Linked DNA regions of Homo sapiens: region 1 is linked to region 2. The links come from fine-mapping of genetic effects on gene expression. A gene starts in region 2. The other region holds a variant in brackets. All regions are shown on one strand. Distances are from middle to middle.

What was found.
Region 1: its variant is fine-mapped to the expression of KIRREL3-AS1 in breast (GTEx, PIP 0.96).

The regions. Positions count from the first base shown.
Region 1 is chr11:126,593,932-126,605,487 of GRCh38, reverse strand. All of the region lies in intron 1 of KIRREL3 (kirre like nephrin family adhesion molecule 3), which reads left to right. The region is part of intron 1 of KIRREL3-AS1 (KIRREL3 antisense RNA 1); the gene reads right to left. Among named protein-coding and RNA genes, the nearest start is that of KIRREL3-AS4, 53 kb to the left of the region's middle. RefSeq lists an enhancer at 2,879-3,656. The variant A/G (reference allele first, on the strand shown) is at 5,825.
Region 2 is chr11:126,538,639-126,550,194 of GRCh38, reverse strand. It overlaps KIRREL3-AS1 (KIRREL3 antisense RNA 1), which reads right to left and starts at 6,368. Exons shown (of 2, transcript NR_174952.1): 1 at 5,951-6,368. All of the region lies in intron 2 of KIRREL3 (kirre like nephrin family adhesion molecule 3), which reads left to right. RefSeq lists enhancers at 5,719-6,223, 6,224-6,730.

The DNA.
Region 1 (11,556 bases), 55 kb before region 2:
ATCATGTCCCATGAAGTAGGTCCCATCCTGAGCCCCCACACCACTTCACAGCAGTCACCGCAGGACTCCTCCCCCTGAGCCTCAAATCCCAGACCCAAGTGGCCTGAGACCTGGAGACCATGGGTGCTCCATTGCTCCCACTCCCGACGCCTGAAGATGAAGCTGCTCACTGGGACCCTGATCCTCTACATTAAGTGCAGCACATTATACCTGCCTGGAATCCTGGCAGTGACTAAGGAGGCACCAACTGCAAATGTGACTTGGTAAGATCCCAGGAGTCGGTCCCTAGATATAGTTATCCATGGGGCCCCAACCTGCTGCAGATGGGAGAGCAGGGAATCCAGGAGAAAAGCCAAGAGCGTGGGAGGAGCCAAGGAGAAAGGGCAGGGCCAAGAAAGGCCACACCCTCACCAGGCTCGATGCATTGTCTGTGATTATGGGTCTTTGTTGAGGTGAAGGAAGCAGTAATAATAATCTCATCTGCCACTTTGCAATTTACAATGCACTTTTACATATGCCGTTTCATTTGCTCCTCCTAAGTGTGCTATGAGGGAGATAGCATCAGCCTGATTTCTCTTTTGTCCCCATGAGGAGAGGGGGCTTGGGGTTAAATAATTCTGCTGTGAGGCTCTGTGAAGTTAGCAGGTTGCAGCTCTGGGGTGAGTCTAGCGTTGCTTCTCTGAGTCACCTCCTTTCGAAGACCTCCTCTTTTATTGTGTTCCAAACATGGACACCTGGCAAAGCTCAGACACGCTTGTTTAGAAGTGGGCCATTCTGCGCAGCCTCAGACCCCCTGCTGTGTGCACCATGGCTCCAGGCAGTGTGCTGTGAACACCCACCCACCCCCATGTGGCCCACAGGACACACCTGTAAGCCAACGGATCAGAACCCTCCAGCTGTAGAGGCAGCAGAGGATTTAGAGTGGCCAAGAAGGACTGTACTAACACTAACTGCGAACGGCCTGGTCCTCAGTTTCCCTGTCTGGACAGTGAATTTCTCTGTAGGGCTGTGGTGAAGACTAAATGAGATATGGTATACACATTATCTTGTACAAGCCTGGCACATGGTACATGTTCAACAAATGGCAGCTCTTACTGTTCTTATTAAAGAATGCTAGACAAAAATGCAATGCAGCCAGTATGTATGGAATACTCAGTTTCATCCTAGCTTAGGAACAGAATGCCTCAGACCTTCAGGGTGGTCTTCCTGCCCATTCCCACGTGTACACTCACCCCTGTCAGCTCTGCGTCCTCGTTTTCGGTTCAGAAATACAGTGGTCATAATACTGGACACCCGGAGGAGATAGCACAAGGACAGAAGCTATTGCTTATTCATCTTTGATTTCCACAGCCTAGCATCGGGCCTCATGTGAAGGATTATCAGTAAATATTACTGAATGGATAGAAGGGAGGGAGGAAGGATAAAAGGAAGAAAGGAAAGCAGGAAGGAAGGAAGGAAGTCAACTGAAAAGTGAATGGATAACGTGAATTATGGCATTCTTTGGCTGATTGGCCATCTCAAAACAGATCCTGGTTCCTCTTAAAGATGGGACCATGATGTTGATCTCCAGCCTCGGGGCTAGTGGGAGGAGGGGGGGCTATTTGGGGAGACATGGGTAAAAAGCCTTGTATCGGGGAACACGAGTTCTCTCTCCACTCCCTGGCTTCTCCCATACATCCCTTCCCATCAGAAACCCTGGTCAATCCGGAGCTACCAGCATCCCAGGGCCAGGTGAGGCAACAGCCCCAGCACACCTGCCCAGGATATGGCTGCTGCGCACCAGGCAGGGCCCAGAGAAACATGCAGCCATGTGCTGCCAGAGAGCAGATGCAGCAGCGCTGGGCACTGAGGCGTGGCTCCAGCACAGCTGCTCAGGGGGCCAAGACCCAAGCATGTTCCTCCCAGTTCAGCATGTCTGCAGAGACAGGGTCAGGAGGTGAGGACCAGACAGGGGCCAGCCATTGAGGTTTCTGTGTGCCCCCTCTCCCCTTCTGTGGCCCTCCCTGCTTAGTCAAGGCCCCCATATCCTTGGTGCCATCTGCAGCTGCCCCAGTCCTACCCTGTCCTGCCCATGATGCCCTCATTCCTGAGGCTCCCAGGCAGCTTCTGCCCCCTCATTCATTGGGAATGAGGGTTCTCATCACAGCGGAGGGAGGTATTTCTCCCCAAACGAGTTGCTGTGAGATGATGCCAGGAGGGCACCGAGGCTGGCATGAGCCCCCACTTGCCTGCCCATCGGTATTCAATGGGAATTTATTGTTTTAATCAAAGTACTATGCTAAACAGGGAGTCCTGGGATCCTTGCCCTGGCATGGGGCCCAGCAGCTCCAGGAATCTGTAGGGGCATCTCTAAATAACAGTCCACAGAACACACAGTGGATTGATTCTTTTTTGGAGTGTGGCAGACCCCTCCCCTGCAGGGTGACGGTGGGTGAACTTGGAGGAGCATGTTCTAGGGTTCCTTGGTCTGAGCTAGGAGAGAGAGCGTCTCCTATTGGTCTCTATGCCTCAGTCAGGCCTCCAATCATTACTTCTTGAGACCTCTGTAGCTATTAGCTGAGTTGGACAGGCCTACCTGCCCCTTGCCCTGCTGTGCTTTCCTGAGCTGACCCTACCATGGCCTTAAACTTTTCCAGAGCAGCTCATGAAAAGCTCCTCCCTTCTTACCTGTCCTCCCAGCCCCGCGAACTGCCCCCGACAGAACAGCAAGCTCAAGCCCAGGGCAGAGGGGTTTATCAAGGCCGTGGTGCCAAGGTCTCAGTAAGTATCATAAATTGGAAGCCTGGCCCAGGTGATGCGGATCCACAGCTGGGGCAGGGCTTCAACCACGGGGCCACATGCCTGCCTTTCTGTGATGGGACTGTGACAGACGGGAGAGATCAGAGGCGTTCAAGCCAAAGGGAGGCAGGTCCCAGTTATGTCACTTCCTAGCTGTGTGACCTCAGGCAGAGCACTTGACCTCTCTGGGCCTCTCCCTCATCTGTCAGGGGAGGATGACAGCACAGGATGGTTGTGAGGATCAAGTGAGATAAAGTATATAGACTTGCATAAACGACGACGAGGCACCGGACAAAGGCAGGTTGCTATTACTATGGCTTCTGGGGCCCAGGTGGAAAGGGCAGAGGACCAGAGGCCAGACTTCTGGGAGAAGAGCTAGAAAGCTCAGTCCCTGTAGATAACCCCACACACCACAGGCTCCATAACCCCAAGACCCAAAAAGCCCCCAGGGCTGTGGCCTCCCTGCTGGAGCCACCTCTGACAGTGAGCACACAATGAGCTCCCTTCTTCAGAGCAGCCAGAGTAGGCTTTCATCAAAAGGCAAAACAGAAACGCTGCCAGGGCTGACCTCTTTGCCACCGCTCCTGGGGAAAGACTTTGTTTTGCGAGAAAGGAGGGGGCTACTCCTCCTCTCAGTAAACAAACTCGGCCATTCAATTAGTTCCTGCGAGGTGTTGATCATGCCACGGGAAAAGGCCGCAGCCCCTGCCTCGCAGCGGTCAGCTTCTGTGACTCTGTCAGGCAAATCAAAGAGGCGGCCTCAGGTGACCTTGTTTCATCTCAAACACACACAGGACCCCTTGTCTCCTAAAACTCATGCTGTCCCGTATGCACGGTTCTCAGGCCAAGACCTCCACCTTTAGTCCAGTCCTTAAAAACGGGAGATGGCACGAGGGAATGGAGCTCCTAGAAATGGACGCGGCAGGGGATGGAATTCAGGGGGATGAAACTCCAAATAGGCGTCCAGGAATGTAGGCGGGGTGGGCGAATGGCACCGCAGGATGCATGAGAAGAATGGAGGAGGGGCGGCAAGTGGGCAGAGGGGGCCAGGACACTGTGAGGCCTCCTTTCTCTGGTTCTCTCAGGTGCCATAAGGAGAAAACCTGGCGGAGTGTTGAGGTAGAAGACTTCTGTTTACAGCCATCTATCTCCCATAATTAGCCATTTAGGAAGAAAATAGCCTTCAAATTCAAAGGTAAATTGACTTACATTGGGATAATAACGTTTGATTGAGCACGGGAAGTTCATCTTTAGAGTATGAGAGCAAACAAATTGCTTTTCTTCCCTGGTGCTTGGAAAGAAACAAGATGAGATTGCAGGTGCTCCCAGAGCTGTGTTCCCATCGCCTCAGGGCATTAGCAGGCCCAGGGCTGAGCTGCAAAACCCAAGATGCCCACGGCTGCCGCTCAGTCTCTCTGCCAGTTGTTTTCTGATCCTTGTTCTGGAGGGTTTTAAAATTATATTGCATCACATTGATGCAGCAATCAGTTATTATTGTCAACAAGAGCATGAAGAGACATAAATTCTCTCCCTTAGATAGAGGCTGGTTCATAAATACATTTCTTTATTGCTTCCTAGATTGGAAAGATTGCTCTGTGCTTTGGCTTCCTGGAACATCGGGGGGCTGGGAGGACGGGGGACAAAGGGTTTTAAATTTCGCTTCTGACTAAGATTGTGAAATCCTGGGTAATTTCCTGAAAAGGTCACTGGATGCTGACCTTCCTGGGGTAGGAGATCCGTGGAGGGGTGAGAGAGAGAAGGGAATATGCAAATAACTAAAATAGAATGCTCTGATATGGACAAAACTGATGGGTGACTGGGAGAGGGAACAGTAACCCTAACTGAAGAAGTCAGGGTCTTTTTTCCCAGAGGAGGAAAGTTTAAGCCAAGCTTTGAAAGATGAGACATGGAAGTGAATGATCAAAGGTGTATAAGGAGCCCTTCCTTGAATACTTTGGATTCTGGCAAAAATTCAAATTTTACTTATATTCCTAGTAGAAACCAGGAATCATCTCATTGGAGCTCTATTTCAGCTATGTCTTTCTTCCATTTTTTCTGATCATGTATGTTTGGAGTAAGAGTAAAGGGATTTGCACCACCCATAGATTTGAGTGTTGGAGTGGGGTGGTTGGTGGAGTTGGGTGGTGCACATGCACAACCCAAGTGGCTAGCTCGTGGGTATGAAAGGTTTAAGGACCTAGAGTTTAAATACAGAGGAACAAGGCAAGAAACACATTTCTTCTTAGCTAATAAGGACCTAGATTAGTTATTTCTTGCTGTATTAAAATTAGCAGTTTAAGACAACAGACATTTATTACCTCTAAATATATGTGGGTCAAGAATCTGGGCACAGCTTAGATGGGCCCTCTGCTTCAAGGTCTCTCCCAAGGCTGCAATCAAGATGTAAGTCAGGGCTTTACCATCTCAAGGCTTACCTGGGGCAGGGTTGGCTTCCAAGCTCACTCACATGCTTGTCAGTTGGATTCAATTCCTTGTAGGCTGTTGGATTGAGAGCCTCATTTGCCCACTGGATACTGGCTACAGGCTACACTCAAGTTCTTGCCACATGGGCCTCTCCAATATAGCAGCTTTCTTCATCAAAGCAAGCATCTGAGAAGGAGAGACAGAGAGAAAAAGAGAGAGCCAACAGGACAGAACACGCAAACTAGTCTTTTATAACTTAACTAGAGAGGTGATAGCCCATCACTCTCGCTGTGTTCTATTGGTTAGAAGCAAGTCACCAGGTCTAGCCCATACTCAAGGGAAGGGAGCACACAGGGGTCTGAAAACCAGGAGGCAGGAGTAATTGGCAAGCTGCCCACCATGGGACCTTGGCTGTCAAGTTAAGTCCCCTGATGCTAGTCTAAGAAAATGGAAACCAGCTGGGGTCAAGTCAGGAACAGAGCCCTGGTCTTCTGGCTCTTTCTCCAGGGCCCTTCAACCACAGTGAAGGTTACACATCAGAGGGTCATTACTGTATGGACCAGAGATGAGGGAGTTTCTGGAGAAGCCTGATTAGAGCTTCTATATGCAAGAGCTGTAAGCA[A/G]GTCCCCTTCAGAGGCTTGTGGGGATACCCGGTATCTTGGCTAGGCATGAGGAATGACAGACCCCTAGAGGCTTCCATTTGATGGAAAAGACAAATGGGCCCCTACTTTCTATGTGGGCCTCTATGTCTCTGACTCAGATCCAGCCACATGCCAGAAGAGAAAGGGGGTGAAGCAGAGACCCGCACAGGGGAGCTAGAGGAGTAAACAGCCCAGGAAGAGCTGGTCACCTTTTCATTTTAAGAGTTAAAGAGAACAGAGAAGAAGAAGAAAAGAGTCAGGCAATGGAATAGCAGGTGCAGCCGAAAGCGTGCCTGCCTCAGAGAGAGTCCATTAGGGGCCAAGACACCGAGCAGGGACAATGCGGCTGAGACAATGGAAGCAGCTGAAAAGCCGTGGAAATTGGGTGTGCAGACTCCTGCTTCTGGGATGTCTTAACAGATTAATAAGGCTTTTGAGGATTTCTAGAAACATTTATATGAGTCAGAGCCCTAAGAGGGGCCAATGTGGGGTTCTTTGAAGCTTCTCTTTTAGCAGCTTGAAACAGCAGATGTCTCTGCACCCAGCAAGGAGGGGTGAGGCCTGGGCAAGCCAGGAAAAGCTATTGTGTCTCTAGAAAATGGGAGCCCACAAGGGGACTTTATAACAGCCATTGAAGTCGGAAGGCAGGCACATTTCTTAGTTTGGGAACAATTATCTGGCCAAACAATGGGAGGGAGGCAGCCACTGCTCAGGCACAAAAACCACGTGATCTTCAGACTGGGGTTGAGAACATTCTAGGAAGCCTAAGAGTGAGCCCTACAGGTCAGAAGTAACGCTTGCAAGACAAAGCCAGAATTATTATTCCCACTGCAGAGGTAAGGAAACCGAAGCCCAGAAAAATTAAGTGACTTGCCCAAAGTCCCTCAGGAGTGAATGACAGAGTGGGCAATCAATGTGTATCAGTTTGGCATTCAACTGGGTGTAGCAGAGATCCAAAGTAAGTGGCATAAGCAAATTAGGGGTTTGCTTTTCTCTCACATAAAATGAAGACCAGGAGTAGATGGGCAGCCCATCCTTAGCACTGGCTTCCATTCTTGGGTCATACCTCATGGTCATAAAATGGCTGCTGAAGCTCCAGTCATCAGCCCCACATTTCAGGCAGGAAGAAGAAACAAGAGGAAAGGACAAAAGAGGTGCACCTCCCAGGTGAATCAGCCATCTTTAAAGAAGCCTACCAGTGATCTCTGAATATTCGCATCAATCACCTCTAGCTTCTTAAGGAAGGCTAGGAAATCCATATTTGGTTAACTTGGGTAACCTGCCACACCAACAATGAAAGTACTGTAATGGTAAATAAATGGGAGAATGTATATTAGGTAGGCAAATAGCACTCTTTGCCCCAAGACCCAAATTTCCTGAATCTAAATCCAAAATTCTTTCCACTTCCTACATGGCCTATTGCAAACATGAACAAAATGTGACACACACTACTGAGCACTTCCAACCCCTCTGACCCTAGCAAAGTCACTGAACGCTTCACCACTCAGAAAGTCCCGCTCTTCAGACATTGGCGTGAGCCAAGAACTCCAGGAAAATATTCTTGCGCCTGCTCATTAGCTATTGGCTGGTCCAAATCTCTTCTCTAGGAGGTGTGGTCCACTCTGCTCAAATTACCTCAAGTCTCTACTTCTCTTAGGGGTCTAAGCCAGGCACAGGTCTTTGCTCTCACTGTACAATCCTCATAGGATGCTATGGGTGACTTAAGTGGCTGCTGTGCTCTGTTTTAGACAGAACTGTACTTCCAAATGATACAGTACTGATCAAGGTAGGTAGAAAAGTGAAGACAGGAATGGGTGCAGAGGATGGTGACCAATTGCATACATTTTTGTTAATTCCTCAGCCATCAGGGGTAAGTTGCCACATTCTGCCCCATTGCTATCAACTTTTATTCCGTGTCAGGGACCACAAGGGCTCTGTTTTTCACTGGCACAGCAAACAAGAGGCTCCACAATCCTCTGTCGGGGAAGGCACTCGAGAGAACCTTGGGACCACTTGCCCTTTGAGACCGAAATAGTTTGGAGCTCCAAGTGGGAACTGTGAAGCTGACGGCAAAAGAATGTGACAGGGTTGTCCTTCCCACCAGCTTCCTCTTTCCCTGTTTCCAAATTTCTTCCTGTGACATTTCAAGTTACAAGGCTCCCATCTCAGAACTTTGACTTTGAATGTCTTTTCATATTGGCCTTAAAGAAGATGGTGTCGTCAGTGACCTTTTTAAAAGACCACGGGGACTTAATTAAAAACTAAACTTGGCCACTTAATTCAGATGGTCCTGTCGACTCCTCAGCACTGATGTGAACTCAGCCTTGTCAGCTTGCAGCGGGCTACTGGCACTGCCCTTTGGTGTCCCGACATTGCGGAGCTGCAGAGTGACAGGCGGGCTCTGGCCCAGGCTCCAGGACCAGCGAGGCTGCTCTTGACCAGAGAGGGCCCCCTGCCACAGAGAGCCAAGGGCTCTGATTGGGTGGGTAGTTCTGGGTAACTCGTGCTGGGAACGGCCCTCCAAAGGGAGAGAATGGAGACACAGGGATTTTGGTGATGGCTAGTGTAAATCAAGGGAATTTCTGAGAGGTCTGTCTGGCTACCACACTCCAAAATTCTCCTAGGTCCCTGTTTTCCTCTGAATGACTTTGTAAAGAGACTAGAGCCCATATAATGCCCCATCCTGCTTCCTCCTGCTGCTTTAAAGATTCTAGAAACTGGTAGATGGATCTGCAGACACTCATCCTTTAGGCCAGGAAACTGCAGCCCGGGCTCTGTCTCTCTTGCCCAAGGCTAGAGGCCATCAAACTCTTCTGGAAGACCAGGCTGGATGGTTGATTCAGTTCTTATTACCTTATTAATAGTTGCTTTCATTCCCCCTTCCTGGAAGAAGAAAGCTGGGCTCAAGATGCGTAGGTGAGCTGTGAAGAGCTTTGTGCTCCTAAGACAGAATGTAGAGCTCCACACAGAGATACCTCCTCCCCACTCCCGCATGCCTGCCAGAAGTCAGGGAGCAGAGTCACTTCCCAGAGAAAAACCATCTCTTCATTACCTAGCCACATCAGATCACTGTCAACTCAATGCAGCTAAGAAACATGGCAAGAACATATCTTGGCCCTGGGGCCGAGGTCATCACATTCCTACCTTCCCCCCTTCAGAAGGGACAGAGTATAGTGAAAGGAGACCTAGAGTCTGGCACTTCCCTCACTAACTGGCTGTGTGACATTGGGCATGTTACTTTACCTCTCTGGGCCTCACTACCACCTCTAAAAATAGGGCTAATAATTTGTGACTTATCTGCAGATGATGATCTTGTAGGTTTCCTTTCACTTACGTTTGTTTGACAATGTACTCAACATCTACCATATGCCAGGTGCTGTGTTAGATCTAAGGATGCGGCAGTGAACAGAACATTCTTGTTGGTTGCTCCATGGGCATGAACACTGGATGTCAGAACTCCTGGGACTTCATGGCAGGTGACTCTCGAGATTGGTGAACAGCCTATGGAGAAGGCAGCTCAGCCACCAGCCAGGCTCGTAGGGCTTTCCGTTGGGTTCACCAGAGCCTAGAACAGACAGATTTATCCTGGGAGACTTTCCTGCCTTCCTAGGGGCCAAGGGCTCCCCACCTGCTTGGAGACCTCAACCACTTTCCTCTGCTCCTAAGGGAGGAAACACAGCACCAGCCTATATTGTGACCCTTAATCATTGTTTATTACAATTCTTTATGACCATAGACACACACCAAAGAAAGCCTTTGAAAACCAGGTGCTGCTTATGCCAGCAGAGCTAGAGAAGGTTCTGGAAAGGATGTCCTGGCTGGCGTCTGTCACTGCTGGTCACCTGGAGGCTTTGTATGCCATCAGGGCTTGTCAGTTCTTGCTGTCCCCCATCGCTCCTAAGGGGGCGGTGTGGCCTGGCTGCAGGTGCCTTCTGGCCACTGGGTCTCCCTGGGAGAAAAAGAACTCATTCTAGTCCTATCTCTGCCACTGACTAGCTGTGTGGCCTTCCTTAGGCAAAGGACACAGTCCTGAGTCATAGCCACTGAGTCCTCAGTAAGATGATGCTCACAATGCATCCCTTACCGGTTGCTGTGAAATTAAATGAGATAATTCAGGTAAACACTTGGTAAACTAAAGAGGCTCAAATCAAGGCCAAGTTTAGGATGAGGAAGACCTTGATAAGGGAGAAATAGTCCAAGATCTGAGTCATCAGCTAAGACAGGAGCCACACAGAGCCCCCCAATCCTGGGCGATAAACCTGGGACAACTAGCCTGCTGGGCTCCACTTTGCCAAGGGCCCTGCCAGCTCCTACACTGCCCTCAGCTCCGGATCTCTGGAGCCAGGCTGGAGGGGAGGCTGACTGCATTTCTCCAGAGCCAGGCTGGAGAGGAGGCTGACTGCAGCTCCTTTGTCTGCCCAAAGTGGACATCCACCCTCTTCAGCCCCTCACCCGCCACCCCCTCCACAAGTGGGTTAAGAGCCTTGGAAAGAGAAAAGAAGGCCGGTGAAGTGGCTCTTGAGTGCTCTCAGCCGGGCTGACAGCCCTCAGGCCTTGTCACCATCCCCACAGCTGCATGGAAACAGTGCCACGGCAGCTGGGGGAGCTCTGTGCCCATCTTCAGGGCACGCTCAGGACGGGGTGCCCCACGCCTCACAACCCAGAAGGCCCCTGAGGGTCCGAGGGCCCAGGGCAGCTGCAAAGTGACTTTCACCAGGAGACATTGTTCCCCCTCCCAGGGGCGGAAGGCCAACTGGGGCAAAACGCTGAGAAGCACGTGGCGGAAATGCTAACAGAAAAGATCGAGCAGCTCCCAAATGCAGGTTCCATCGCTGAGGCTTCAGAATTTTATATGAGCTTTAGGAAAACAACCCCTTCTATGTTCTATTCAGTGTCTCTGCCTTTCTATGAGGACCTGCGGCTGGACAGAGGAGAGTTGGCCAGGAGCATGGGTTAGAGAATTTAAGAGCTGGCCTTAGAGATAGTTTCTGCTGCGGCCTCATTGCACTCTTAAAGGCACCACTCATGAGGCCTCTGAGGCCCAGCAAGGATAAATGACCGCCCAGACCCTCCAGCAGTTGAAGGCCCCATGCTATGTGGAAAGAAAGAAGGAAAAACGAGGCTAAAGGAATTCTAAAGTTACACAGCGAAAAAAGTGGAAGGAGCTGAGATTTGACAGTTTCCAGCGATTCCAAACTCATGTTCTTTCTCCTACACCCTGTAGCTTCTCCAAGAAGATTGGAGTCTAAAGGGCGCAGAGTTTCCTCGAGGAGCTTCTGGTCCAGTGAGGGAGATGGAATTCATCCAGGTAGAAAGGACCATAGCAACAACAAAAAAATCACAGTACGCCATGAATCCTGTGGCTCCGACCCAGCCCCCAGCCCTACCCTTCACCTTACTGTTAGTTTTCACCAGCTCCTCCATCCTTCCCTCCCTTCCTCTTCTGCCTGCCTTCTTCTCCAGGTAGATGAGTCCCACAGCTTACTTCAGATCTCAGGGCAGAACCTGTGACCAGGAGGGAGGGGTGGAGGATGGGAGGAGGATACACTGTGCCAATGGACAGAGGGAAGGGAGCCTGGGGATGTGATTTCTTTTCCCCAATAAAGCAGAAAGTGAAAGGCAGGAGTTTCTGCAAATGTCATCTCTTTGTTCTCTCTTTGTGATTTGTCATCTGCATCCACCACTGAGCAGAGTACAGACCTGGCCTTGCCCT
Region 2 (11,556 bases):
AATGCTCATTTATTCACCAACCATGTGTCCAGTACCCGCTCTGTGCCTGGCGCTGTGCATGTAAAAACACAGTCCCTGCCCCCAAGGATACCACTGTCTTGCGGGGAGAGACAAACACGTCAGCAACTACAATACAATGTCGCAGTTGCGGTAACCGGGTATGAATAAGTAGCTATTGGAAACAGAGAAGGAGAATCCAATCACACTGTAGGCCAGGAGAGGAGTGTCCAGCATGGCTTCTGGAGAAATAAGCCCTGTGAGATGTTTTATTCTAAGAGGCTGTTGCAACCTATGCTTGAATCCCTCCAAAGACAAGAAACTTGCAGCCTGCCGAGGCGGTGGGCAGCTCCTCAGCCAGGCTCTCCAAACGCCACACCGCTTCCACCCCAGGAGGCTGCAGTTTTCGCATTCTAGCTTTACTGATGACGAGGGGACCCAGTGACTTGGACAGCAGCCACTGGCAAGATCCTGGGGTCTCCACTATGTCAACTGCACCGGGGAGGCCTCCTTTCTTCTCTCTGCTTCTTCCTTCCATCCCCAGCCAGCCTCAAAGGCTTCATCACAGAATTCTTTGAGTGCTGAGACCCTCCCCCAGCCCTCTCCCCAGGGTCTGAAGAAAGCCCCAGAGAAGTTGGAATAAACGAAGGCGCTTAATGGCTTGCGGTGCCATAAAGTTTTTAGAGCCGTGCGCTGGAATGAGCAGGTTCAGGCTGAGATGAATTATCCAGGGCTTTTATCAAAGGGAGTCAATAAAAACCTGAAGGAGCTTGCCCCACCTCCACAGAGTGCTCATGTCACAGTGCCGGGCCCTGTGCTCTGGAAGTAGGAACCAGGGGGCCGCGTTTTCCCCCTAACTCCATCTGCTTTCTTCCCTGTGCCTTCCTTTCTGAAATGTATTCGTTTCTATGGAAACTGTGTTGTTACTGGTATGGGAGGAGTTTAATGACATTCAGAAGTGCCAAATCAAGTCCATTTATATAACGGTTTGAAATACACATAATGGCCTATGGAATATAGGACACGGTGACAGTTTCAGTAACTGTGTACCGAGTGTGGGACAAATAGAGCAATGGAATAGTCCCCATCTCCGAGTCAAATGCACTAGGAATAACCACTATTCTTAGTACTAAAGAGCAGCACTTCTCAACCATTATTCATAAAAGGATCTCAAAACACAACACTAACCTGTTCTCAGCTCATAGAGAAAGGACCCTGGACCTCAGCTCCTCTGTGCCTGCCAAGGTTTGACTAAACATTAGGTGGGGAAGGTACAGAGGTGTGAGTGTGGCTGTGGATGCTTCCAGATGTGGAAGGGAGCAGGTATTCTATCTCGTTGCTCCCAGGACCCACCCACGTGGTGAGCCCACTGACGTCATTGCCTTGATTGACAGTCACCCCTGCGCTGTTCCTATGGCTCATTTCTGCTGGATTCAGAGATTCATCAGCACCCACTGTGTACGCAGAGATGAATGACACCTGGAGGATGCCCTTATCTTACCTCAGGTTCCCCTGGAAGCAGGCCCTAAGCAAGAGCGCTAGTGTAGTCATTCCTCATGAAGGTGCAGAGGTGCCAGCGGGAGGGTTGGAAATTGACATGGGAAAGGAGGCATCGGCATGGGGGGACCCCAAACCTGCTACCACTATGGGCAGCCAGAGCCCAGTCCCAGTAAGAAACTCTGAGAAGTGCTATTGAACACCACCTCACAGCTAGGGCACCCAAGCGGTGGGGTATTTCTGCACCAGCTCCTGTAGGGCATGGGTGGAGTGCTGCTGGGTGAGGGTGTTGTCTCCCAGCAGGTCTGGCCTGCTCTGTGTGAGGGCACAGTGGCCTCCGCAACTAAAGAGAAAGCCCTCAAGAGAAGGGGTCCAGACACCGGCAATGGGAGGTTGGCCTGAAGACGCGGGATGGTCGGGCCTGCAGATACAAGTGGGCACTGAGAGAGTCAGCAGCAGCCTGCAGAGAACTTCAGGTCCATTGGGGAGATGGGCATATAATAAAATGGCAGAAGGCAGGGCGATGGGAGAACTAAAGAGAGGTACAGATGACAGGCTCGTGGAGGACTGGAGGTGGGAAGCTATTTGTTCTGACTGAGGGGCTCCAAAAAAGCAGGGGAAGAGAGATGGAGCTGACACACAAAGACGAGGGCCAAGGAGGGTACTTTTGCACACTTGCACCATCTAATCCTCACCACGTCACAAAGTGGGTAGTGTTATCCACATTCTGAGGAGGAAGAAACAGAGGCTCAGACAGATTAGATCATCACCTAAAGGCACACAGATGTTAGAGTAAGCCAGCTGAACGCCAAAGCCTGGCCTTCTTACTTCCACCCTGCCTCGGGAGCTTTGTGTCTGGGCGACGAGGATAGGGTGACTTCCCCACCATCGTCCAGGGCAGACTTGACTAAGCCCCTATTGTGGGTCCCTGTTGATTTTTCCCCATGGCCAAGGACTGCCGTCCCCAAATCTCCCACCATTCACTGACCACAGACCCCCCACTCCGCCACTCAGGCGGCCCCTCTGATCCTGCCCCAGATATGGGCTGGGCTGACTGTGCCTAATATTGAGTGAATTTTCTGCACTGCCCAGAGGGAAAGAGAGGACACAGCCTGAGGAGGGGAGCTTCAGCTCTAGTAGTCCCCAGCAGTGGGTCCCCTACCCCGTCCTTACCCCTGCACGCTCCTCTCCCAGCCACGCTCTAATCCTCACTGCCTCCAAACACACGGGGGAGGAGGGATCACGCGTACACACAGGCAGCATTTCTGTAGCATGTTAATAGGTTTTCCGTCAGATGCAGCCTTCGTGATTAGACACGGTGGGGAGAAGCTACATGAGACCTAACAAAATGAGAGTCTTTCCTGCAGAACTTCTCAGAGACACTAATACACCAAAGGCCATGGTAAGCCACCCAAAGGGGATATGACTCACAGAGTTCCCAAACTCATTTGACCACAAAACATTTTTCCTGCAGCATGTGTCAGGACTAGTGGTCCCTGAAATCCACTTTGGGAAATAATGTTTTAGAGCCCAGATCTGCCACTAACTGGTTGTGTGAGCTTTGTCAAACAAGAGTAAATCATACCTGCCTTGTGGGGACCCACCAAGTAACATGGGTGAACACTCTTTATAAACTTGTAAAATACTATACAGATTATTTATTTGTGTGAAGCAAACACACTCAGTGTCCCAGAGAACCTTTCCTTGGAGGTCAAACAAACAAATAACAATAATAATGTTTTTTAAAAATTAGTTCTGTTCCTGTCTCAGTATATGACTTTGACCTTGATCTCTCTTGACCTCTATGTTCTCATCTGCGAAATGGGTATACTCATGATGCTAGCCCTCTTTCCTCCACGCATTTGTTGTAAGGAGAAAATATGCATCACGATTGCGTGATGCTTTGAAAAAAAGTATAAAGCACCACAGGATGCAAGGCTTTATTATCAGAGATCCGGGTTAATAGCCCCAATTCAGTCCCATTTGTGCTGAGATCAAGACAAAAGGTGTGCTGGGGAGGGAAGGGGCTAGTGAGATAAATAAAAATGACTAATAGTCTTCATCCATATTTATGATGTTAGGAGACTTGCATGAGCATGTCACCGAGGAGAGAAAATGAATATTTTATGAGTGAATGCTGAATGTTGTATTAAGATGAAATGGACAGAAAGCGGCCCGCTTGCTTCTGCCCCCAGGTTGTGCTGGGGAGGTCAGCACAGGCTCTGTGCCTGGTCTCCAAGGAGCAGGGGCAGCTCATCAGGAAGGATGAGGTCAGTCTCCCAGCACAGATTGGGAGCTGTCCAGGGTGGACTGGTGGCAGCAACCTTGCCCTGGGAGGTAGGAGAACTAAGACCCCATTCCATCTACCAGCTGGGAAGCCTTGGGCAAGTTACCATAACCTCACTGGGCCTCCATTTCCCACTGTAAAATGAGAAGATCAACCCTGAACAATTGTGAGGTCTAAATCCAAGCTCAGCTGTTTGGAGGAGGGTTTTGTAATGCACACAAGTGGGAAGTGTTATTATTCATGGATACATTCAACATTTATTGAACATCTACTATGTGCCAATCACTGCCACAGCCCCTTATTTATCATATATCCTGTGTGCCAAACACCACAGTCATTACTTTACACACATCACTTCATTTAATCATCACCAGAATCTTGAGAGGTATCTATTATCACTCACATTTTCCACATAAAGAAAATGAAACTTAGGAAAGACAAATAACTTGCCCAAAGCCACACAGCTAGGAAATAGCAGAGCCCAGGACTGTATGAAGCCAAAACCCTGAGTTCTACATTAAATGGCCCTTGCCTCAGGTACTTCTGCAGCGCCAGTGGGGGCCCTGCCCTGCAACCCTTGAAAGCTCTTCCCTGTTCTGCTCATGCTCTGTGCTTCCTACCACCAATGCCCTCCAGAACCAGAAGAGAAAGCCTTGCCACCTTCTGTCTGGGCCCTCATGATATCCTCCTTTATTCTCCAACCCTGCTCCCTTCCTTCTCCCTGAAGGCCTGTTCTCCATAATGCAGTCATCCAGGAGTTCTTTATTTTATTTATTTTATTTTATTTTATTTTATTTTATTTTTAAAAATTGAGACAGGGTCTCACATGTTGTCAGGCTGGTCTCGAACTCCTGGGCTCAAGCAATCCTCCCTCAATGGCCTTCCAAAGTGCTGGGATTACAGGCGTGGGCCACCGTGCCTGGCCCAGGGACTCTAATTTCCATCCCTATTCATCTCTTATCCCAGGCAGGCATCAGGTGGTATAAAGACTGAACACCTCCCACCCCTGAAAGCAGCAAGGACAGATGGGGCAGTGCAGGGTGAAGCTCAGCCATGTCTCCCCGATCCAGATAGATATCTCTGGAGGCAAAGACGGCTCCCCTTGGTGCCAGCTCAAAGCTCCTGGCTCACTCCCGTCCACCACACAGCACGAGGACACCACTATCTCTGCAAATCTCTTCCCTATAGGGCAGTTTCATGTTATCTTGGCTCATTCCTTCTCCCGAGATGAAGAGATTGTTTTAAACCTGCCGCCCCACCAGTTCTGCTCTTGGCTTCCAATGCCATTAAGTTTCATTATAACAAATAAACACCACAATGACATTTATAAGTTATCACTGAGCACAGAAGCACAAATATGAAGCAGATAAACTGCATTTGATCCAAATAATTACTGCAGGCAATATTGGGCTTAGTCTGAGCTGGCAGCCGGGTACCAAGTAATTTATTAGATTGCGTAAGGCAATGTTGCACGTTGAGTTTTTCATTATTGTGTCTTCTCCCCTCTCTGTGGCCTAAATAGGTTAGAGGAGTTTAGACAGTGCATGGCCAAACAAAGACAGACTTTGCTCAAGCAGATTAAGGCCAGGAATGTCGGCCAAGTGTCCAGGAATGGCTGCTTCCCAGGCAGCAACGGACTTGCAAGAGAAGAAAGGGCTTAGGCGATTATCTTGATGCTGCCAACCAAGGACAGCTCCCTGCACTCTCCACCCACTGGCCCAGATACAAAAAGCAGCCCCGTGGAGGGAGTAAATAAATGACAGGGCCCATTTGCTGTCCTGCATGGAGCCCCCAGGACACCGACTCTGGGTTCCTGCTGCAGACTCTCAGCCAAAGACCCTCTATGGAAAGTCCCTTCCATAGCCCCAGGTAGCCCCGGGCAGTCCCACCCCCAGTCCCAGACCTATCATCCTGCAATAAATCAAGGGAAGGAAGCAGTCTGCCAGCCAACTCTGCAAAACAAAGAGAAGAGAACTGGCTGCAAGCAGCTGCCTCCCTGCCAAACCCAAACTCATAAAGTTTGATTCAAGGGGTTACAATACCTCCCATTCAGAATCCCTCCTGCCCCGTTCTTCCAGCCTTAGTAAATTACCCAATAAGCAGCAAGGACCTGCAGTTATTGTGCAGTTAAATGGTATTTGCCCCGTAAATTCTGAGCAGAGTACTAACCGTGATATACAGTAACTAATTACAGACATGAATGCTCTCCCCAAGATGCCGCATGTTACCAAATATCGTTGCGTTTAGGAGAGGGGGGTTGAAAGCTGCTCTCTTCTCTCCAGTGAAGCCATGAGTAACTCTCTTATTAGAGGAGCTGTCGCCACCTCCAGGGGCACTCCATGCTGGAAAATAGAGTTGTCCTGGGGAGCAGACAGGAGTGGGGCCACATGCCCATGTGCTGCCCCCTGACCCCGTGCCCCAGCAGAAGGGCCTAGCAGGTACCGGCTGGTCCTCCTTGGGTCATCTCACAACAAATAAGTGGCTCAGCACCACGGTGGCAGTGGCAAAGACCCAAGGCTCCAGCAGGGCAGGAAATGGAAGTCATTATTCACCCAGCCCAAGGCCGAGCAGAGAGAGCTATGGCTAGGGATCGGCCTTTGCAAAGGGCTTCTGAATAAGGCCACACAGGATTAGGATTAAAAGTGGTGCCAACGACTTTTGCCCTGAAGTATTGGTGACAGAGCTGATCTCAGCCCCAAGGGCACCATGGGAGAGGTTTCCGTGGTCTTCAGGAAGGGCAGGGGCTGTCCTATCGGCTTCCCATCAGCTTTATAGCTGTTTTTGGAGCTCAGCTGGGGGCAGGTAGGGGGCACAGTAGTGAGTCTCTGCTTTCTGAAGAGGAAACCACACAGATCAAACACCCTCTGCTGACCGGCTACTGTTGGGGGAAAAAAAGCCAGGCCTGGAGTCAAATGGCTCAAACCCTACCTCTACCACACCCTGTGACCCTGGATGTGTTAGTTAACCTCTCTGAGTTTCCTTGTCCGTAAAATGGGAAAGATTTTCTATTTCTCAGGATGGTGGATATGAGCCAGGGCTACACCTGCTTCTAAGGAGTTCTGTCCTGCTGGAAAAGCAGAAAGCTTCCCCTCCTAGGCTGGGCGTCTCCGGCAGTCCTCACACTCCCTCTCCATCCTTTCAAGGGGCTTCCAGCACAAAACCTCTCCTTGAAACATCTCTACTTCCAACAATCAGAGAGACTAGGGCAGTAATGGCAAGTTAGTTTTGCTTCGTTCTCTTTGATTGATGCAGACCAGCTGAGGCTTTGCAGGGCCTCTGTTTGGGGGGTGACAGGAGAGGCAGAGTGGAGTAGAATAGGGCAGAATTGGGAGGGTATATTCACGGGGGACATCTGGCTTGGAGCTGTGATATTCAAGTCTCTACATGGGGGCTGATGATGGGACCTGCTCCACGGGGTGCTATGAAGGTGGATTAGGTAAGATAATGTATGTGAAGTGCTTTGTATCGGAGTTAGTTGTGGTTAATATCCCAAACCCACCAGAAGACGGCCCACAATCCCAGGGCAGTGAGAAGTATCACTTTTTTAATTAGGACACATATATAGTCAGCACTCAAGTATCTGTTGGCAAATTGTCCCCATTCCTGGCAAATGCTATCACCAAGTTTGCTTAATGAAGTCCTCTGTTAACATTTCACAGCTTCTTATTTTACTCTTATTTGCATAAGGTCCAAAGGGAATAAAAGTCCTTTAAAGGCAAAATCTGTTAATATCCCCCTCCCTTCCTAGATAAGGTGTGAGCCATAAAGACAGGAGATGGGGAAGGTGGGGTGCACCTGACTGTAGCTTTGGGCCAGTCCCAGAGGTGATGTTCTCCCCTCAGCTGAGTAGGAGGCAGAGAGGGAGCCCCACCCTTGGGTTGAGTGTTTTTTTTAAGTATGAAAAATTCCTAGAACATCAAACATATCCATATTCAAATGTGAATATCAAAATGCATTCCAAAGTCGAAAATGAATGTTACTTAGGATTATTCACTGTTTTGGATTGTCCATCATTCTAGATTATACACACCCTGCTCTTCTCCACTAACAAAGATAATTAAGAGTTGATTGTATTTGGTCTCCAAGAGGGGAGAAACCCAGGACGTTGCCCCAAGATGGTCTGTGTCCAGTTGGGAACAACTCCAGGAACCATGAGAAGACTCCTCTATAAGCACCAGGTCTGAGCTGTGATTCTCCATGCAGGCTCAGAGAGCAAGACCAAGGCACCTCGTGCTTCAGACCAGCCTGCCTGAGTCACTCAGTGCACGCCGGGTGGGCCTGCTTTCACACCGTCAGTGGGATATAGCCACGTGGTCCTTCACAGGACACCTGAAGAGCATCAAAACTGCACAGGGCCTTTGGAATCCTTGAGCATTGCACAGAGGGTCCTGAGGGCCCGCTGCAGGGCTGCCGAGGGCAGGACTCGGTCCTTCCCGCGCTGCCTCAGCTCTGCCTCCACCGTTTTATACACTGGGATTCCCTGTGAGACTTCACTGACAAAAAGGGTTGCATGAACTTTCAAAAGGTGTGAAAATGCCTTCACTGTGCAGTGGGAACATCAATGCGCACCCCGAGAGAGAGACAGCCACTTAATCAAGGCCACCCAGTGACAGAGCCTGAACTAGAAATAACCCAGGCCCACAAGCCCGTGCTGTGGGCACACAACAGTGCCCTTAGGATGTGGCCCAGAAACCGCCTGCAGAAGGATGACCCAGAAGCTATTAAAATGCAGATTCCTTGACCCAGCTCAGAGCCACTATCCCAGAATCTCTGAGTTGGAGCCCAGGAAACTGTTATTTTTAGCCAGTCCCCCAGGTGATCCTCATGCACATGGAAGTTTTAGAACCGTCTCTGACTGACAAGGCTATAGCAGCATAAATGATTATTTTGTTTACTTTTTTTAATGTTTAGGATATAGATCTGAGCCCCCAAAAGGCCAAGTGTCCTTGAGAGACTTGCTTTCACTTCTTTGCACCTTGATTTTATTATTTTCAACCTTAGGACCACCCCCCACCCCCGAAATAGGATTTTGGATAAGTTAGAACATCAAGCATTAGGGTTGGGAGGAAGGCGCTTAAACCTTGCATTTTACAGATAAGGCATCTGAGTCTTAGTTAAAGAGTCAGGCCCAAGGGCACACAGCTAAGAGGTGGCAGAGGCAGCATCAACTGGTACCTTCTGGGCCCAGGACAAGGACAAAGCTTCATGTGTCCATACAGTACCCCTTAGACATGGGAGCAAGAGGTGCTGGGCATCTTGGAGTCAGCCAATCCATGACCTAGCCTCCAGCCTCTCCTGGTGGTGCCCACGCTGACGCCCTCTGAGAGGGGTTGATGGGCACTCTGTCTGCTGTAGCCGAGCCTGCCCATAGCCGAGCCTGCAGCTCCCTCTTGAGCTAATGGCATAGTTCCATCCCTGCCCCTTAGTGCCACTCTCTTCCTTCCATGCTGCTCCAACACATCCCAAGGTGCCGGCTCAGTGAGGGCACATTCCAGTCAGAAGACACAAGAGCCTGAGACTCAGAGAAGAAAGGGGGCTTAGCCAGGGTCCCATGGCTGGCCAGCAACAGGCCTGAGACCACAGCCAGGGTCTCTGCTTCATGCGCTGTCGAGCATCTCCCATCTCCACTCCCCCACCATAAACCCACTCTGCTATGCCCGTCCTGTCTCATTTAGACCTCCAGGTGACCTCGGGCAGGGATGGATGGGCTCTGCCATGGGCACTGAAGAGCCCATATTTCCAGCAGCACTTATCAGTGTCTTCGTGGCATCCAGGCCTTGGCTGGATCGATGGAAGAATCCCTCTCCCTGCCACTAATGAGTACAGTGCAGGCTTTGGCAGGGGCCGCGAGCCTGATCATCAGTAGGCAAAGGATTTATAGTGACTTTGGACTCACCCTGCCTCGGCCAGCCCGATTGCTCTTCGTTAAAGACCCACACTGTCCAGGACAACCTTGGTGGATTTTGTGTCCTGGGAGAGAAGTGCGAGGCTGGGAGAATCACAGGCTGCCCACACTGGCTCAGCCCGGGTGAGGAACAAGCATAGGGGAATGTGCCCTCAGACTTTCCACCCCCTCATCCAGCCCTGGGAAGAGCAGTCAGCCTCTTTTTTGTAAGTCCAAGTAAAATTCTAGTGCAATTTCTGTAATGTTCATGAGACTGGCAAGCTTCTCCTTACGTGTGTATCAGAATCAAGCTACCAATGGCTGCAGGTGGCGATGCTGGGATGGAAAGTGTTTCTTTGTCTCTCTCCCAGTAGAAATCAAGGAGAAACAGACAATAGAGAAAAGGCCCTGTCTTCTACCCCTGCCTGGTTCTTCTGGCTTCTCTGTTTATATTTCCAATCCCAGTCTAAAGGGAGAAGATTAGGTTAGATGATCTCTTGCCATCCCGATATGGTTCAAAACCTGTGCAAACCTCAACAAGATTTAGATGTTTCACCCAAGGCAGCTACTCCCAACACTCCCAGACTGGAGTAACCTTGTCCCTCTTAGATAGTCACAACAACATCTATAACTTTCCATATTTGGAGTTGAATTATCAGGTCAACACCAAGTGAGAGGACACCTGAAAATACTTCTCCTACTGCCTGACCCATAGGTAGTGCTCAGTCAGTGTGAGTTCTTCACACCTCCTTCCCAGCTCCAGAACCATTGACCCAACTACATCTGGGACAGCATCACCTGGGGGATTCTGGACCCCTCTCCATCAACACATTTAAAACTGAACTCACTGCCTCACCTCAAGCGCGCTTCTCCTCCTGAGCAGCAAATGGCTCCTCCATCATCCATTCACACTTTCATCTTCCTCATCCCTGGTCAAGTACTATCAGTTCTACCCCCAAATGGCTCCTAAATCCATTTCTTCTTTCCATTGATGCAGCGTTAGCCTGAGTCCTCATGACAGCAAAACCTTGCTGATCAGTCTCCCTGTCTTCAGATTATCCTCCTTCATTCATCCTCCTCCCTGTCATCACCGTGATATTTCTAAAACTCAGATCTGAGCATGTGGGTCAAAAACCTTTGATGACTTCTCATGAAGTACAAACTTCTTGGCACACGTTCAAGGGCCCACACGGTCTGACCCACCAGGACTTTCTAGATTTGCGCTGTACTAAGAGAGTCTGCACACACATGCTCCGTGCACCCAGCCTGCTAGGCTTGTAATGATACTGCCAGCTGCCATTATGGAAGGCAGGCAGGGCTCTGTGCACATCACAGAGAATGACCTATTTCATTCTCACAAACAACTCAACAAGTATTGATTGCTAAACCAATGGGGAAACTGAGGCTCAGAGGGACTAAGCAATTTGCCCAGGGACCCACAGCCATAATGGCAGGGTCAGAGATCAAGCCTAGACCATGTGGCACTGCTGCTTTTATTCCATGAACACATCTGTTCTCCACACTTGACGTAAGCTGTTCCCCATTCCAGGGAACATTCCCACCTTGTCTTCATCCTGGCCATTTCAGAAGCCAACCCTTCTGTGACTCCTTCTTTGGGACTTTGTGCCTCACTCTGACGCTTATGGTGTAGAGCTTTTTATTCTAGTTTCTTCTGCACATATTTGCCTCCCCGCAGCTCCAGAGCCTACTCAGCGGAAGACATATCAGCCCCTCCTGCACACCCCACACCCAACCTGGGGACTTGGAGATTGCTGAGGTGGCTCCTGCTCATGCCTGAGGCACCATGGCATCCTGAGAGCTGAAACAGTGACTGAAACCCCCTAGAACCTCCATAAAAATCCATTTTTATCCGTCAGTCAGTGGGTCAGAA